5 linked regions of the Homo sapiens genome follow. The protein of the gene in region 5 purifies or fractionates together with the protein of the main gene of each other region. This does not show direct contact. Each region holds a gene or a part of one and is shown on either strand. Other genes may lie near its edges. The genes, in order: SPRYD7, CTU1, SHROOM1, GALNT1 and NYX.

Region 1 (3,762 bases), on a different chromosome or scaffold from region 5:
CTCAACATCCAAACCAGGAAACTGACATTGGTACACTACTGTGAACTAGACTGCAGGCCTTACTCAGCTTCTAAATGTTTTTACCGGTATTTACTCAAGAGAAATGAATGTGTATATCCAAAGACATATTTTCAAACGTTCACAATAGCTTTATTTGTAATAGTCCCACACTGGAAACAACCCTAATGTCCATCAACTGGTGAAGGATAAAGAAATTGTGATATATCCACACAATGCTACACTTCTCAGCAATAAAAACTGATGAATTATTGATATATGCTACAGCATAAATGAATCTTCAAATAATTGTGCTGAGTGAAAGAAGCCAGACCAAAAGAAAAGACCATATGATTTTGTTAATATAATACTCTAGAAAATATGGGCTAATCTGTAGTGACAGAAAGCAGATCAGTGGTTGTTTGGTTGGGGCTGGGGTAGGGAGTGGTGAGTAGGATATAAGAGGCAGAAGGAAACCTTTGGGGTGGTGAATATGTTCATTACCTTGACCCTGGTGATGACAAAACAAAACATGACCGTAAAGCAAAGCAAGTAAATAATCAGCACTGCCACCCAATAGTGATTACTCCCCCTGGGTGAGGAATGCAGCTGTGGTGCGGGCTGCATCTGGGCCAAGAAAATGTTCTATTTCTTGATCTAAGTGGTAATAATGTGAGTGTTCACTTGATAGCTATTTGTTAAATTGCACATATAAGTTTAATGCACATTACTATATACTTTATATTTCAGCATAAATGCAGAAAAAAATGTAAATACTGGATTTGACATTCATGAAGTCACCAGTGATTTTAACAAGGGTGGTTTCAATTAGTGGTGTAATGGCAGCTGAATTGGGTTGCAGAACAAACGAACAATAACAATAAAGGTGTCAAATGCTCTACCCTTGAGCTAGTCAAGTAATCTATACAACAAACCCCCCACCGTGACACCAGTTTACCTGTGTAACAAACCTTCACATGTACCCCCGAACCTAAATGTTAAAAAAAAAAAAGAAAGAAAAACAATAAAGATGGCAGATATAGGTTATTCTAGAAGAAATGTGGCCATCCAGGGAAGGGGAAACACAGGACTAGTGAGGGATGCATGCCCAAAGAAGGGCGTTTGGGATGGGGCTTAGAATGTTTATAAGCACTGAAGAGGGAGGCCCATGACATGAGATATCGATGAAATAACTGACAAAGTGACGTTCCAGATTTGGGGAGTTTGGAATCCAGACTACAGATAGAGTGTTTGCAACATGCAGAGTACCACTTCTGGGATGAGATGGAAAGAAGGCAGGATTGGACCTGAAGAGAGGGAAGCTGGAGTTCACTTGTGATTGCCTGTTTTTTTTGTAAGGTAGAAGGCAAGGCATTTTCAGAGGATGAATAGAGAATGCAAGAAGCACAGAATGCATAGACATGCACAAAGAATTGCTGAAAATTATTGAGAGCTCAGATTAGGCTAGAAGTCATAACTTTGTTTTTTTTTGTTTTGTTTTGTTGTTTTCTTTTTTGAGACAGAGTCTCGCTCTGTCACCCAGGCTGGAGTGCAGTGGCATGATCTCGGCTCACTGCAAGCTCCGCCTCCCCGGTTCACGCTATTCTCTTGCCTCAGCCTCCCAAGTAGCTGGGACCACAGGCACCCGCCACCACACCCAGCTAATTTTTTGTATTTTTAGTAGAGACGGGGTTTCACCCTGTTAGCCAGGATGGTCTCAATCTCCTGACCTCGTGATCCGCCTGCCTCAGCCTCCCAAAGTGCTGGGATTACAGGCGTGAGCTACTGCGCCCAGCCAGGAAGTCGTAACTTTGTAACCACACTTCTTCAGTGTTATGCAGTCTTTTTCTTTCTACAGGCTGAGTGTAAGAAGAGACAAAATGAATGATTGGATTGATCAAGGATTAGGGATGGAAGACAAAAGAGTAAAGGGATTTAAGTTTTATGTTTATCTTTGATAGGATCAGGCTATTAAAACACTTGGTTTAATTGGACTGATTTATGAGTTCAATTTATGAAATATAATTTAGTATCTATAACCTTAGTACATTACAAATAATGCTGAATAAAAGAAACAGTTTAGAGCATTAAACTTATTTGCTACAGTTAACTTGTATAACTGTCACTCTACTGATATTTATTTTATTTCTCAGGCTAACCTATTTCAAATATCAAGCTAAATTTCCATTTACTCAAGTAAATAAAGGAATTGCTTTTAGGCTTACCCAATATGCAACACTAAATTGAGTTTTAAAACACACATTTACATGCAAGGACACAGAAGGTAAAATGACTGAAAAGTAATTTTAGGAGAAAAGAAGGCTAATGAAAACCTTAAACTAAAAGGTAATCACAAGCTTTGGCTATTATCATATTATTATTTATATTTGTTATTGTATAATTCTGACATCCCAGTTTGTCATCATTGATACTGCTATTTTTATTTTAGTATTTTAATTTTATTTTGCTTTTGAGACAGGGTCTTACTCTGGTGCCAAGGCTGGAGTGCAGCGGCACGATGATCACTGCTCACAGGAGACTTGACCTCCCCGGCTCAAGAGATCCTCTCAGCTCAGCCTCTCAAGTAGCTGGGACTACAGGCACGTACAACCACACCTGGATAATTTTAAAATTTTTTGTCGAGACGTGTTCTCACTATGTTGCTCAAGGCTGGTCTTCAACTCCTGGACTCGAGCAACTCTTACCTCAGCCTCCCAAAGTGCTGGGATTACAGGCATGAGTCATTGCACCAGTGCTGCTTTTATAGTAAACTACAACAAATGTAATTAAATTAGTTCTTTTTTTTTTTTTTCTTTTTTTTGAGATGGAGTCTTGCTCTGTCACCCAGGCTGGAGCACAGTGGTGTGATCTCGGCTCACTGCAACCTCTGCCTCCTGGGTTCAAGTGATTCTCCGCCTCACCCTCCTGAGTAGTTGCGATTACAGGTGTGTGCCACCACACACGGTTTCACCATGTTGGCCAGGCTAGTCTTGAACTCCAGACCTCAAGTGACCCACCTGTCTTGGCCTCCCAAACTGCTGGGATTACAGGCATGAGCCACCGTGCCTGGCCTAATTAGTTATTTTTCTTTCTTTTTTAATTTTATTTTATTTTATTTTTTTTTGTGGAGACTAAGTCTTGCTCTGTCGCCCAGGCTGGAGTGCAATGGCATGATCTCGGCTCACTGCAACCTCCATCTCCTGGGTTCAAGTGATTTTCCTGTCTCAGCCTCCCATGTAACTGGGATTACAGGAGTGCGCTACCACGTCTGGCTAATTTTTTGTATTTTTAGTAGAGATGGGGTTTCACCATGTTGGCCAGGCTGGTCTCAAACTCCTGACATCAAGTGATCCACCGGCTTCGGCCTCCCAAAGTGTTGGGATTATAGGTGTGAGCCACCACGCCAGTCCTAATTAGTTCTTATTATAACCCAAATTTAAGAACTTAAATGAGAAAATATTTTTAGACTTACAAAACCAAAGGCAGAAAAATCATATACCTGTTTACTTAAAGTTGATAATACAAAATAGGCTGGACACGGTGGCTCATGCCTATAATCTCAGCACTTTGGGAGGCCGAGGTGGGCAGATCACTTGAGCTCAGGAGTTCGAGATCAGCCTGGCCAACATGGTGAAACCCCATCTCTAGTAAAAATATAAAAGTTGGCCAGGTGCTCACACCTATAATCCCAGCACTTTGGAAGGCCGAGGCGGGCAGAACAGAAGGTCAAGAGATCAAGACCATCCTGGCCAACATGGTGAAACC
Region 2 (3,762 bases), on a different chromosome or scaffold from region 5:
CAACAATTATTATACTACGCCTTTGAAAATGGAGTGTATAAACAAAGGGTAGAAATCACCTTGCAAGTCAGGGATTTTTCTGGAAGGCTTCATTACTTTTGGAAGTACAATTAATAAGTGATTCTATCAAATTAACTTTAAAATCCGAGGCAGCCTCTCATTCTTTTTTTTTCTCCCCCAGCTGGAATCTTGCTCTGTCACCCAGGCTGGAGTGCAGTGGCGTGATCTCGACTCACTGCAACCTCCGCCTCCCGGGTTCAAGCAATTCTCCTGCCTCAGCCTCCCGTGTAGCTGGGATTACAGCCGCCCACCACCACACTCAGCTAATTTTTGTATTCTTAGTAGAGACGGGGTTTCACCATGTTGGCCAGGCTGGCCTCGAACGTTTGACCTTGTGATTCCGCCTGCCTCAGCCTCCCAAAGTGCTGGGATTACAGGTGTGAGCCACTGTGCCCGGCCGAAGCCTTTCATTCTTTCCATACACTGTCTGCTCTTGTATGGTAAGGATTATTCTTCCCATTTTCAATCACAGAGATCTAGGGATTTCTCCAAAGTTACTCAGTAAGGAAAGGGCCACATCAGTGAATGAAGCTCAGTAAGCCTTCCCCAGAGCCAGTGGCCCTACCTAGCATGGTGGCACATGACAGCCTCAGAACTACTTTTGCCTTCATATGCTTTCAGTGTGCTGATTCTCTCCAACCATCATCTCTCACCTCCATCACCGCAGCTGGCTTCCCACTGACTGGTCTCCTCGGCTTTGTCCCTGTCCCTCCAACCCAGGTTCCTCGCCATGGCCTGGGTGAGCTTTTCAAAGTGAAACTCTCTTCATGTCACTTTTACTGGTTCCGCCACAGCCTACAGGGTAAGGCCTGACCTCTTCCACCTCTCCAGCCTCCCCTGCCCTTGCTTTCTGGGTTCCAGCCACACTGGACTTCTTGGGGCAGCCCAAATTGGCTTTTCACAGGCCAATAACCTCTCCCTAATTCTTACCCGCTTTACCTCTTCACTGTGAGCCTTCAGATTTCAAAACCGTTCCTTGACCCCACTCCCTCCACGTCATAGGGTTCTCTGTGTGTACACATAGTCCATAACATGTCCATACATGGTCAATAACATGTATAATGTTTATAATTTTGTACCTGATAACCATGCAAAGGTAGGAACTTGTGCGTAACTGTATTCTCAGCCCTAGCCTGACAATGATGATGATAATAGCATGTATAAAATGTGTAATCTATATTATATCATACGGGTTATGTAACATAACTATAATATAGATAACGTTATACTTCTACTGACTCATCTAATTGTCATAACAAGTTTATGAGCTGGGTACCATTCATAGTCCTGTTTTAGGGATGGGGTGAAACAGAAGTACAGAGTGGTTAAGAACTTTGGTATGGCCACAGTTGGGATCCGGCATATAGCAGAAACTTAGCATCTGTTTGTTGAAGGAATGGATGAAAAAGACAGAATAAAAAAGTTATCTTCCAGCACTTTGGGAGGCCGAGGTGGGTGGATCACGAGGTCAGGAGATCGAGATCATCCTGGCTAACATGGTGAAACCCCGTCTCTACTAAAAATACAAAAAATTAGCTGGGCGTGGTGGCAGGCACCTGTAGCCCCGGCTACTCGGGAGGCTGAGCCAGGAGAATGGCGTGAATCCGGGAGGCAGAGGTTGCAGTAAGCCGAGATCGCACCACTGCACTCCAGCCTGGGAGACAGAGCGAGACTCTGTCTCAAAAAAAAAAAAAAAAAAAAAGTTATCAAAGAGGAGAGGCCAACCAAGAAAAGGAATTAAGAGATGGAGATGCTTTTTAGAGAAAGAGCTGGATTCTGAAAGGTGGACCATAAGAGATCAAGCATGTTAGAAACATTTAAAAATAAGTAAAGGACCAGAGATCTCCAGAGATTTTCACCTCCCACCCCTTTGGCAATCTGTGGAGACCAAGACGGTGGCCAAGACCCAAAAACCTTTGTGATCACTGCCTGGCCCCTCTGTCTCCCCAGCGTCTTGAACCTTTAAAGGGCCCCAGCCCCAAACTGCAGCATGCGCCCTTCCGCACCTCCGTACAGGGATCCTCCCATTAAGCCACCAGGGTCTCCTCGCCGCCTTCTGGAGCATGCGCCTGAATCCCCTTTCAGGTCCCGCCTCCTCGCCTGTGCATTCGCCCCACTGCCTCGGAGAGTGCCGCTCTGCGGCCCGTACTACGCTCACCTGTCACGATGTGCGTGGCTCCCACGCGGCGCGCCCCTTCCTCCAGCGCCCGGCGCCGCAGCACTCCACAGAAGGTGCAGCAGGAGCGGCTGCGGCCGGAGCCGGCTGTGCTGCGGGCCACGGCGTCCATCGTCCAGCCCCCAAAGAGGTCTTCGTAGGCCACGACCGTGAGCGGCAGCTCCCAGCGCGCCGCCTGGCGCCGCACGGCCGCCAACGCCGCGTCCCGGTAGCCACCGATGCCCTCATCGACGGCCACGAGCTGCAGTGAGATGCCCAGGCGCGGCGCCAGCGCGCGCAGCACGTGCGCCAGCACCGTGGAGTCCTTGCCGCCCGAGGCGCCCACGGCCACCACCGCGCCGGGCGGCAGCAGGCGGCCGGCGAGCACCGTGTGCAGCACCTCGGCCTCGAAGGCGGCGCAGAAGCAGGCACCGCACAGCGCTTGGCCCGAGAGCGGACGGCGGAGGGCGGCGCGTGCAGCATGGCAGGAGGCGCACGGCGGGGCGGGCATTGCGGGAGGGGTCGGCTTCTCCTAGACAGGGAGAGAGAGGAGGTGGGTTACATATGGATTCCGGATTGCAGGGTCCCTGCCATCGGGGAGATTGTCTGGATTGCACCTCTGCCCGGAATAGACCAGGGAGACGTGTGCGCGAGTGGAGTAGCTTCTTCTAGCGCTGGGGATAGGATGGTTATAAATAGGTCCGGTGTAAGGAAGCCACTGCCTTAGGGAAGGCTTCTTGGATTGCACCCATTATGCAAGAAGAAGAGAAGTAGCTTAAGAAGCTGGCTTCATGGGTAAAGAGAGGGAGCGACAAGCAGGTTATACCCAGGATTAGGTTGTGTCCTCTCCAGAGGGATGGGGGTGTATATTAAGGCCCATTTGTCACAACCTCCAGGGAGGCCACCCTTGTTACAGTCCTGATCAGGACAAGGTAGGTATCATTGGCCTGGGCCACCAGGGCTGTTAAAAGCCCTTGGGAGGTGAGGGGTTTTTGACTCTAAGGGCAGAGGGAGGCCAGGGGACTGAAGCTCTGTGCAGCGGGAGGTGGAAAACAGGAAAGGCCAACTGATTGCACTTTGTAGGGTGGGATACGGTCTCCAGGAATGGGTTCTGATTGCATCCTATGAAAGGCAGGGTGATCACCTTCTCCAGGGAACACAGGCAGCCTGGATCACACCTCTCAGGAGACCAGCTGGGGTTGCACACATTTTGAGGGTGAGAAAATGGGTGGGCCTCCAAGATTGAACTCAACCCTGCTCTGGTATCAGAATGCCCCACAAGCTTCTGTGCTCTCACCAAGACATGGATCGGCCCATCTTTGACCTTCATCTGTTATCTTTCCTACTTCATTCTTCCCCACCCAGCCTAGACTCCAACCCTCCAGTCAAATCCTGGTCCTGCCTGCCTGGTGAACCCATAAAAACTCCCCAGGCTCAGTTCTCCTCCCCAAGCCACCATCACCTCCAGCCTGGACTACTGTAGTCACCTCCTTGCCATTCAGAGCAGGTCACGCTGCTTCTAGGATTTACCACAATGTGTGGAATTA
Region 3 (3,266 bases), on a different chromosome or scaffold from region 5:
CGGTGATGTATCCTGCAGAGTTACCCCAGAGCAGCCCTGCTGACAGTGAACAGAGGGTCTCAGAGACCTGCATTGTGCCTGCCTGGCTCCCCTCCCTTCCTGATGAAGTGTTCCTAGAAGAGGCCCCACTGGTCAGAATGAGATCACCACCAGACCCCCATGCCTCCCAGGGGCCCCCAGCCAGGTAATTCCCTCTTGCTTCCAAGCATCGTGAGGCACCCCCTGACACACACATCTACAAAACGCTAGAGGGGTGGGAATGCTCTCCTAGCTGGAGCCTGGGATTCCAGGTGATGGGGGTAGGGACAGATGGCCCTTGGAGGCCACCATTTGTTTGTGGCTGGAGCTTTTTCTGATTCAGTGTCTTTTCTGCTTCCAGTGTCCATGCCTCTGACCAGCCGTATGGAACTGGCTTAGGCCAAAGAACTGGCCAGGTTACAGTCCCCACAGAGTACCCGCTCCATGAGTGTCCAGGAACTGCAGGGGCAGATGACTGCTGGCAGGGGGTGAATGGTTCTGTAGGTATTTCCAGGCCCACAAGCCACACCCCCACTGGGACTGCAAATGATAACATCCCAACTATTGACCCCACTGGACTGACCACCAATCCCCCCACAGCTGCAGAGAGTGACCTCCTCAAACCTGTCCCAGCTGATGCCTTGGGACTTTCAGGCAATGATACTCCAGGTCCCTCTCACAATACTGCCCTAGCCAGGGGCACTGGCCAGCCTGGTTCCAGGCCCACATGGCCTAGTCAGTGCCTCGAGGAGCTGGTTCAGGAGCTGGCCAGATTAGATCCCTCTCTATGTGACCCTCTTGCTTCCCAGCCCAGCCCAGAGCCACCCCTGGGCCTGCTGGATGGACTGATTCCTTTAGCAGAGGTCCGGGCTGCAATGCGGCCTGCCTGTGGGGAGGCTGGAGAGGAGGCTGCCAGTACTTTTGAGCCAGGGTGAGTGAGGTGTACTAGGGAATCTGGACACTGAGCCCCTGAAGTTGGGGACAGGAAACCCAGGGAGCTCTGGTTTTGTTCCCAGGTCCTATCAGTTCAGCTTCACCCAGCTCCTGCCGGCTCCTCGGGAGGAGACAAGGCTTGAAAACCCTGCCACCCACCCTGTGCTTGACCAGCCATGTGGGCAGGGGCTCCCTGCACCAAACAACAGCATCCAGGGCAAGAAAGTGAGTGGAGAAGGGCTGGTGGAGGCTGGGGGTGGGTAGGAGCCCAGAGCCTGGGCAGGGAAGTCATGAGCCTGGCCCCAGCCTTGAGCCTTCCCTGTAGGTGGAGCTGGCCGCCCGCCTCCAAAAGATGCTTCAGGACCTTCACACGGAGCAGGAGCGGCTGCAGGGGGAGGCACAAGCGTGGGCCAGGCGCCAAGCGGCTCTGGAGGCTGCAGTGCGCCAGGCCTGTGCCCCTCAGGAGCTGGAGCGGTTCAGCCGGTTCATGGCCGACCTAGAGCGCGTGCTTGGCCTTCTGCTGCTGCTGGGCAGTCGCCTGGCGCGCGTGCGCCGCGCCCTGGCCCGGGCGGCCTCAGACAGCGACCCTGATGAGCAGGTAAAAGGGGTTCAGGTTGCAAGCGAGTAGGGCGGTGAGGGGCCTGCTGTCTCCGGCTGGAACCATTCCGGGAGCGGCGGCGCCCTCACCCGGCTCACGGCGCCTCTTCCTGCGGCTCAAGGCCTCCCTGCTGCAGCGACTCCGGCTCCTGCAGCGGCAGGAGGAGGACGCCAAGGAGCTGAAGGAGCACGTAGCGCGGCGCGAGCGGGCCGTGCGGGAGGTGCTGGTGCGAGCACTACCGGTGGAGGAGCTGCGCGTCTATTGCGCCCTGCTGGCGGGCAAGGCCGCCGTCCTGGCCCAGCAGCGCAACCTGGACGAGCGCATCCGCCTCCTTCAGGACCAACTGGACGCCATCAGGGACGACCTTGGCCATCATGCCCCGTCTCCCAGCCCGGCGCGGCCCCCAGGGACCTGTCCTCCAGTTCAGCCGCCCTTCCCTCTTCTCCTTACATAGTTATAGGTGGAGAGGGTGGGGTGCACCGCCCCTATCTCTCACCCACGTAAGTGGGGTGATGCTGATTTAGTCTCTGCTTTTCCCTTGAGGGATTGGGGAGGACCCAGTCCAGGCCTTTCTAAGATACTCCTCCAGCCGGGCGCGGTGGCTCACGCCTGTAATCCCAGCACTTTGGGAGGCCGAGGCGGGCGGATCACAAGGTCAGGAGATCGAGACCATCCTGGCTAACACGGTGAAACCCCGTCTCTACTAAAAATATAAAAAATTAGCCGGGCGTGGTGGCGGGTGCCTGTATTGCCAGCTACTCGGAAGGCTGAGGCAGGAGAATGGCGTGAACCTGGGAGGTGGAGCTTGCAGTGAGCGGACATCGCGCCACTGCACTCCAGCCTGGGCGACAGAGCAAGACTCCGTCTCAAAAAAAAAAAAAAAAAAAAAAAAAAAAAAGATACTTCTCCAAAGTGTTCTCATGTGGCCTCACCCAGGTCTTGTGTATTATTTGGTAATTAATTTATGGATCTTAAAAACTGCAGTATTCCCCCATTTTGTGATGAGAGTGTGGGGCTGGCAGGGGTTGGTTGGAGGGAGGAGAGAAGACAGAGGAGCACTTAAGGTGCAAAGCAGCCTATTTTTTCTTCAATAAAAATTGTTAAGAGAAGTGTGTGTGTCATCTGCAGCACAGCTGTGGGAGGAGTGAGAGGGGTCTTGTTTACACAGTCACCAGCCCTGGCTGACTAGAGCAGAAGAGGGATTTGCTGGCAGAATATCAGTCAACCCTGCCAATGTCTAGTTAGTCTGGAGAACCTGGCTTGAAAACAGGAGGGACCAGGGGAATACTGCGCTTTCAACTCCACTGTCACCAGTATTTCCTAACTGTTCCAGTGACTGTGTCACAGCCACAAAGGCCTAGGTCTGATTGGCTGAGTCCAGATTCTGTAGCTGGTTTCTAGCCAACATCCCAGCTTCAGTAGAGAAGTAGGAGTCCTGTCTCCTTTCAAGACTCAAGCTACTGAAATGGGCTCAGATGCTGTGCTGCCTAAATGCCCTGACAAATATTCAGAATACTTGGACATCTGGGGACATTCATTCCAAGACCCAGAAAGCACTTTCTTCTTCCAGTTATGTTATCAACACTGTTTATCCTCCTCTCCTTCAGAGATACCACTGGGTCAGCCAGGCCTGAGGCGGGCAGTCGAGGGTGGGAGCTGAAGGTGAGGGGTGGGAGACCTCAAGACCCTCCATGCTGGGACTAAGGACCTGGAGACA
Region 4 (3,762 bases), on a different chromosome or scaffold from region 5:
GGGAAATACTGGTTAGATTTGAGAAAGAATACGGACATTAGGGGTTAACAGCACAGGCTCTCAAACCAGATGGTTGTGAGTTTAGCCGTGTTTTTTAAACCATTTATTTGTGTCTCAGTTTACTTATCTGTGAAGTGGAAATAACAGCACAATCCTATAGTGTTGTGCTTTAATATTCATCAAGCATTCAGATTTGTGCTTGACATAAAGTACATGCTCAGTAAATGTTAGGATTATTAGATCTGCCTGGAAAAGCAATTGGTCAGCCCCTAAAACTGACTAAACCAGTAAAGGTCTAGATTGTTTACTTTTTGTTGTTTAGAATACTCAGCTCCTGAGTTAACAACTATCAGATACCACAATGAAACACATTTGTTCAGGTCCTACAGGAACTACGAACGTCAGCGTTAGCTGAAGCCAGATGCCCTAAATTATATCTATTACCCTAGTCATATTTACATTTTCTGATTTCCCTTTCTGCTGAAAAATCCTATGATTTCAGGTTTCCCTGGACCCTTGAAGCATGAGAAGAGATCTATGAAAGGCTAAATTACTGTTGCTAGCAAAGGAAGGCTCACATGGGTGAAGCTGTGATCAGAAGCATAAGATCCCTGGGCTGCACTATGGTGGGTACTCTTAAGAATGACCTCCAATCTAGAAATGACACTTTTAACCTGTAGGATGTGGCCTGGTATTAAGGGCGTACAAGGCTTAAGGCCAGCTGTTAAGTTAATAAGGCGATAACAAGCAGGCCACAGAGGGTAAACGCTGCGACTTGCCCAGAAGCCAGCTGGCAAGAGGCAGGTAAGACGCAAGCTTGCCTTGGCAGTCATCTACCATGGAGCAGACAAGTGTTTCTTTGTCACACGCCCGAACTCTGGCCCAGCTAACAATGCCTAGGCATTGTCCAAAATTGGGTCAGCTCAAAAAAAACAAAACAAAAACAAAAAACTCCTCATTTTTGGTTCTAAAGACAAGCTGCAGAGTGACTGCTAGAAATCTTTCCCTGGCGCACCACTCACCCTGGGCCTTCTTTGACCAGTACGAGGTCACAGCAAAGGAAAACACATTCCCATTAATGAGGCATCAGTGAGAATGAAAGGCTCAAGAAACTCAATGTAGCCCTCACTTGTTTGAAAACAAATTCCTTAAATCACAACAAGGTTCAGAGGTAGGGAGCTCAAGTCAATCCTGAAGTAGCCTTAGTAACTGTTAGGATAAATGCGTAAGTCTGTGCCTGCCCTGGCACTGAAGAAAACACCAGGCCAGATGGCTTCACCAACTCTCCACCATCTGGCTTCCTTCAGTGATCTACTTGCTTTCCCTTATCTTACATTTCTATTTTACATCCTTTTCTCTTTCCCCAATTCCCCCTCACCAACACCTTCTTCACTCTCAGCCCATAATCTTGTGTTCAACTGAGGAAACAAGCCACCAGAAGAGAAGGTCCTCACACTTCCACCACAAACTGCCAGTTTCCACCTCCAAACCTACAGCTGCCCTGCACTTGTTCCCATTCCTCTACCTTCCTCCCCATGATAAGAGATGACCTCTCTTCTTCCCACCCCCACCCAACACCCTCTACTTGTGTACAGATTTCACCTCCTATCCACCCAAATACATGACACCCATAACAACAGATCCCTTCTTTCTTTTTATTCTGGTGCAGAAACACATAACATAAAATTTACCATCTAAACTGTTTTCAAGTGTACAGTTTAGTAGTGTTAAGTATATTCAGGCTGTTGTGAAACAAATCTCCAGAACTTTTTCATCTTGCAAATGTGAAACTCTATGCCCATGAAGTAACTCTTCTTTAGGCCCTTCCCTCAGCCCTGGTAACCACCATTCTACTTTCTGTTTCTATGAGTTTGACTATTCTAGCTGCCTTATATAAGGAGAATCATACAGCATTTCTCTTTTGGTGACTGTCGTATTATGCTTAACATAAGGTCCTCAAGGTTCATCCATGTTGTAGCATGTATCAGAATTTCCTTCCTTTTTAAGACTGAAAAATATTCCATTGTACGTTGTATCACGATTTATAGCAGTCACTCTGTAGCTTGTCTTTAGAACCAAGAAGGAGGAGTTTTTTACTTTGAACTGACCCAATTTTGGACAATGCCTAAGCATTGCTAGCTGGGCCAGAATGAACGGACACGTGGAGTGCTTCTACTTCTTGGCTATTGTGAATAGTGCTGTTATAAACATGTAAGTAAAAGTAACTCTTCAGACCCTGCGTTCATTTCCTTTGGATACATACCCTGAGGTGGAATTGCTGGATAATATCGTAGTTCTCTTTTTTGAGCATTTTTTGAGAAACCTCCATACTATTTTTAAATAGCAGTTGTACCATTTTACATTCACACCAACAATGCACAAGGGTTCCAATTTTTCAGTATCCTTGCCAACATGTGTCATTCTCTGTTTTTTTGATAGTGGCCATTCTAATGGGTGTTAAGTTGGCTCTTTCTTTTGCATCTTTAAATTTTCTCTTTTGGGTTGCTCATATCAGCACAGTTTTATCTTAATAAAGAAATAAAAACCCCTTTAAGCCCATATTCTCCTCCAGCTACCACCTATTTATCTTCTCTCTTTTACAAGAAAATTCCTTGCAAGACTTGTACACATTCATCTATGTTGCTTCTTCCATTCTCTCTTCAAAACAGAGTTTTTAACAACATCCATGGGGAACTCTCTCAACACTGTGAGATAGGCTACTGATAACATGTCCCTAGCCAAATGCAATAACCAATTCTAAGTACTCATCTTCCTCAATTTCTCTGCAGTATTCGATACAGCTGATCACTTCCTCTTTCCTGAAACACGTCTTTCCCTTAGTCTTGGCGACACCACTCTCTAGGTTCTCCTATTTCACTGCCTACTCCTTCTCAATCTTTTTTGCTGATTCCTTCTCATCTCCATGATTTCTAAACTGTGGCATTCCCTCTGGCATTGTCCTCGGTCTTCTCTCTCATACTTAACATTTTCTCCTCCTCAGGTGACCTCATACAGTTTTGTGGCTTTAAAAACCATCCTATATGCTGACAACCTAAGTTAACATCTCTATCACAACCTCTCCCCCAAAGTGAATATTCTTAAATGTAAAGACCTATTCATATCTTCACTTGGATCTCAAATTTGATGTGTCCCAAACTACTGTTGATTCCCTTGAGCATCTGCTCTTCCTGTAGGTTTTCCCATCTCAGTAATGGCAACTTTACAGTCAGTGTCTCAAGCTTGATAGAAACCAGACATAATCCTTTACTCTCTTCAACAATACACCAGCTCTACTCCTGTTTCCATATAGTTTTTCTCCACATAGCATACAATGTGATCCTTTTCTAGTGGAAGTTTGCTGGTATCTTTCGATAGCTTCCATTTGATTCAGAATAAAATGCAAAATGCAAAGTTCTCACTATAACCTAAAAGCTTTATATGATTTGACCCTCACTTTGTCTTTGACCTTATCTTCTACTACTCTCCACCTTGTTCACTCTATTCCAGACAACTGGTCTCCCTGCTGTTTCTGGAACGCGCTAAGTACATTGTCATCTTAGAAACCTTTATACTTGTTCTTCCCTGTGCCCAGAATACTCTTTCCCTAAAAACTCGTATGACCTGCTCATTCACTTTCTTCAGATCTCTGCTCAAAATCACCTTGACAGGACTCTTTCAACTTCCGTACTCTTTCAACTTCCTTACATAAAACAGTACTACTACCCACGCTCACTTGTCAGTCATTCTCTATCCCTTCTGCCC
Region 5 (2,667 bases):
AATTACGAACTTTTCCAGAGCTTATATACCTTCTTTTTTTGGAGGGGGGGGATGGAGTTTCACTCTTTTCACCCAGGCTGGAGTGCAATGGCACTATCTCAGCTCACTGCAACCTCCGCTTTCTGGGTTCAAGCAATTCTCCTGCCTCAGCCTTCTGAGCAGTTGGGATTACAGGTGCCCACCACCATGCCCGGCTAATTTTTGTATTTTTAGTAGAGACGGGGTTTCACCATGTTGGCCAGGCTAGTCTTTAACTCCTCACCTCAGGTGATCTGCCCACCTCGGCCTCTCGAAGTGTTGGGATTACAGGCGTGAGCCACCGCACCTGGCCCAGAGTTTATATACCTTCTAAGCTACATGTCTACGTGTAAGTGTGCATTCATCTAAAGACATGTGATTAACTTCTTTTAATCTATAACTAAGGTCTGAGTCCTGAAGACCTTCCTCTGGAGCCTCAGTAAATTTACTTAATCTAGATGGGTCCAGGTGCTGGGGTGATTACCCTTATTTTGTCTCCTGCTAAATCATGGAGGTTTGGGGAGTTCCTCCAGACCCCCAATAAACTTGTCTGTGGAGGTCTGGGGAGTTTAGACCCCCAGTAAAACTTGTTTAATCCTAAATGGGTCCTGTTAAGAATTATTTCATAATCTTGTCATGCTTTAAGGCCCAGGAAAGGCTTGGGCAAAACTCTTGGTGGGCTTTTGTTACCTTCCAGCCTTTGTATAAGGGCACTGGTGTATATATATATATGTATTTTTTTTTTTTTTTCCCCTGGGGTAACTGGTTCTTTAGCAAGAGGGGAGCACTGGGGAGTATCTTCAGGGTGGCTGAACTTTGCAACCTCTTTAATAAACAACTTCCCCCTGTGCAGTTTGTCCTCCTTTATCACCACACTCCGATGCCCTGGTATTCAGGCAATGGCATCAGGCCCATATTTCCGTAGAGTTCAGAGTTCTGTGAGGTAGAGCATTCCTTCCAATGGGATCTTAGAATTCTTAGAGTTGCAGAATTTTACTGACTAGACTCAGGAGGTCTCAGGAGTCCAGACTTCCTTAAAGCTTGGCTCAAAATTCCAAGGGAGCTCATAACTCCATGGAGCCCAGAGTTCCTGGCTCGGGAACATTGGGAGGCCTGGGATACAGTGGCTTAGCCTCAAGCAAAAAGGTGAACAATATCTTTATGGCTTGAAGGTATACGAAATAATGTCACTACATCGGAGCAGCGCCTCTGCTTGCACACCTATGGGAGTCTGTAGCTGTGACACATAGAAGTTGGCCACATCCATGTCGGTGGCTCCAAAGTGGGTGGCCACACGCACACCCTCGTGCAATGTGAAGCTCACCTGATGACTCACCATGGCCAGCAGGCCGCGGAGGTAACGATCCCGAAGGGCGGCTCGGGCCCGCTGCTTCTGGGATTCCAAGGATTCTTGAGCTATGGAACACTCCTGGATTTCAAGAACCTCTGACTACAGGGGGGCTCTGCGTCCATCAGGGGCAAAGCCACGGCTGAGACCATCAGGGCCTCGGGGCAGCCGGAGCACAGGCACAGGAAAGGTCACTGGAGCCTGCATTGTCTTGGCGAGGTCCGTGGCTACTGTGCGCGCCCCCACTTCCGCCGGCACCCCGCAGTAGAGGCCAGGGCAGGCCCCGAGCCGCGGAGCCTGGGTTCCGCCTGCGCCACCGCCACCAACCCACGTGTCACGGGCAAATTTATTTATTTATTTATTTATTTTTGATATGGAGTCTCACTCTGTCGCCCAGGCTAGAGTGCTGTGGCGTGATCTCAGCTCACTGGAACCTCCGCCTCCCGGGTTCAAGGGATTCTCGTGCTTCAGCCTCCCAAGTAGGTGGGATTACAGGAGCCCGTCACCACGCCCGGCTAATTTTTGTATTTTTAGTAGAGACGGAGTTTCACCATGTTGCTCAGGCTGGTGTGAACTCCTGAGCTCAGGTGATCTGCCCGCCTCGGCCTCCCAAAGTGCTGGGATTACAGGCGTGAGCCACTGCGACCGGTCAGCTTTTAATATTTAACTTAACCATTCAGTCAGTGCCGAAACAGTAGTTATGGAGGCCTGCATTAGTGAGTCCTGGCCTGCCACACTAGGAGCACACAAGTGGTGGTACAGGCAGGAGGGAGTTTAGAACGGGGTCAGCTGCAGGGATTGCAGCTGGGTTTTGCTGATTAAGGTAACCGGAAAGCAAAGGAGCGGGTGTCTTAGGTGGATAAACCCGTGTGAGGCCGCGGAGGTGGGAAGAGGCCATGTGCCTGACACAAGATAACTCGGTGGAGGGCCTGCATCCTGCTGCCCGGACAGGCAGGATTTTTCCTGGGGTGACCTTTGGCTGACGGTTGCTCCTTTTTTCTCTTTTCTCCTCCTTCCCGACTCCCCACCACCCTGTCCCCGCAGCGGTGGTCCTCGGCCTGCCCAGCGCCTGGGCCGTGGGGGCCTGCGCCCGCGCTTGTCCCGCCGCCTGCGCCTGCAGCACCGTGGAGCGCGGCTGCTCGGTGCGCTGCGACCGCGCGGGCCTCCTGCGGGTGCCGGCCGAGCTCCCGTGCGAGGCGGTCTCCATCGACCTGGACCGGAACGGCCTGCGCTTCCTGGGCGAGCGAGCCTTCGGCACGCTGCCGTCCTTGCGCCGCCTGTCGCTGCGCCACAACAACCTG

What was found.
Region 1: the proteins of NYX (region 5) and SPRYD7 purify together in Homo sapiens (affinity purification with mass spectrometry; 2 studies listed by BioGRID and IntAct, with this or other methods). This does not show direct contact.
Region 2: the proteins of NYX (region 5) and CTU1 purify together in Homo sapiens (affinity purification with mass spectrometry, with the first as the bait; one large-scale study listed by BioGRID). This does not show direct contact.
Region 3: the proteins of NYX (region 5) and SHROOM1 purify together in Homo sapiens (affinity purification with mass spectrometry; 3 studies listed by BioGRID and IntAct, with this or other methods). This does not show direct contact.
Region 4: the proteins of NYX (region 5) and GALNT1 purify together in Homo sapiens (affinity purification with mass spectrometry; 2 studies listed by BioGRID and IntAct, with this or other methods). This does not show direct contact.

Annotation. Positions count from the first base shown.
Region 1 is NC_000013.11:49,915,609-49,919,370, forward strand, and holds part of SPRYD7 (SPRY domain-containing protein 7), read right to left. Parts: intron 2,614-3,762; exon of another isoform or gene 2,485-2,613; intron 1,857-2,484; exon of another isoform or gene 1-1,856.
Region 2 is NC_000019.10:51,101,844-51,105,605, forward strand, and holds part of CTU1 (cytoplasmic tRNA 2-thiolation protein 1), read right to left. Parts: intron 2,748-3,762; 5' UTR 2,727-2,747; coding exon 2,219-2,726; intron 1-2,218.
Region 3 is NC_000005.10:132,821,533-132,824,798, reverse strand, and holds the end of SHROOM1 (protein Shroom1), read left to right. Parts: coding exon 1-184; intron 185-379; coding exon 380-949; intron 950-1,034; coding exon 1,035-1,176; intron 1,177-1,276; coding exon 1,277-1,549; intron 1,550-1,670; coding exon 1,671-2,003; 3' UTR 2,004-2,658; downstream 2,659-3,266. UniProt on the Homo sapiens protein: May be involved in the assembly of microtubule arrays during cell elongation.
Region 4 is NC_000018.10:35,693,080-35,696,841, reverse strand, and holds part of GALNT1 (polypeptide N-acetylgalactosaminyltransferase 1), read right to left. Parts: intron 627-3,762; exon of another isoform or gene 503-626; intron 1-502. UniProt on the Homo sapiens protein: Catalyzes the initial reaction in O-linked oligosaccharide biosynthesis, the transfer of an N-acetyl-D-galactosamine residue to a serine or threonine residue on the protein receptor.
Region 5 is NC_000023.11:41,471,081-41,473,747, forward strand, and holds part of NYX (nyctalopin precursor), read left to right. Parts: intron 1-2,410; coding exon 2,411-2,667.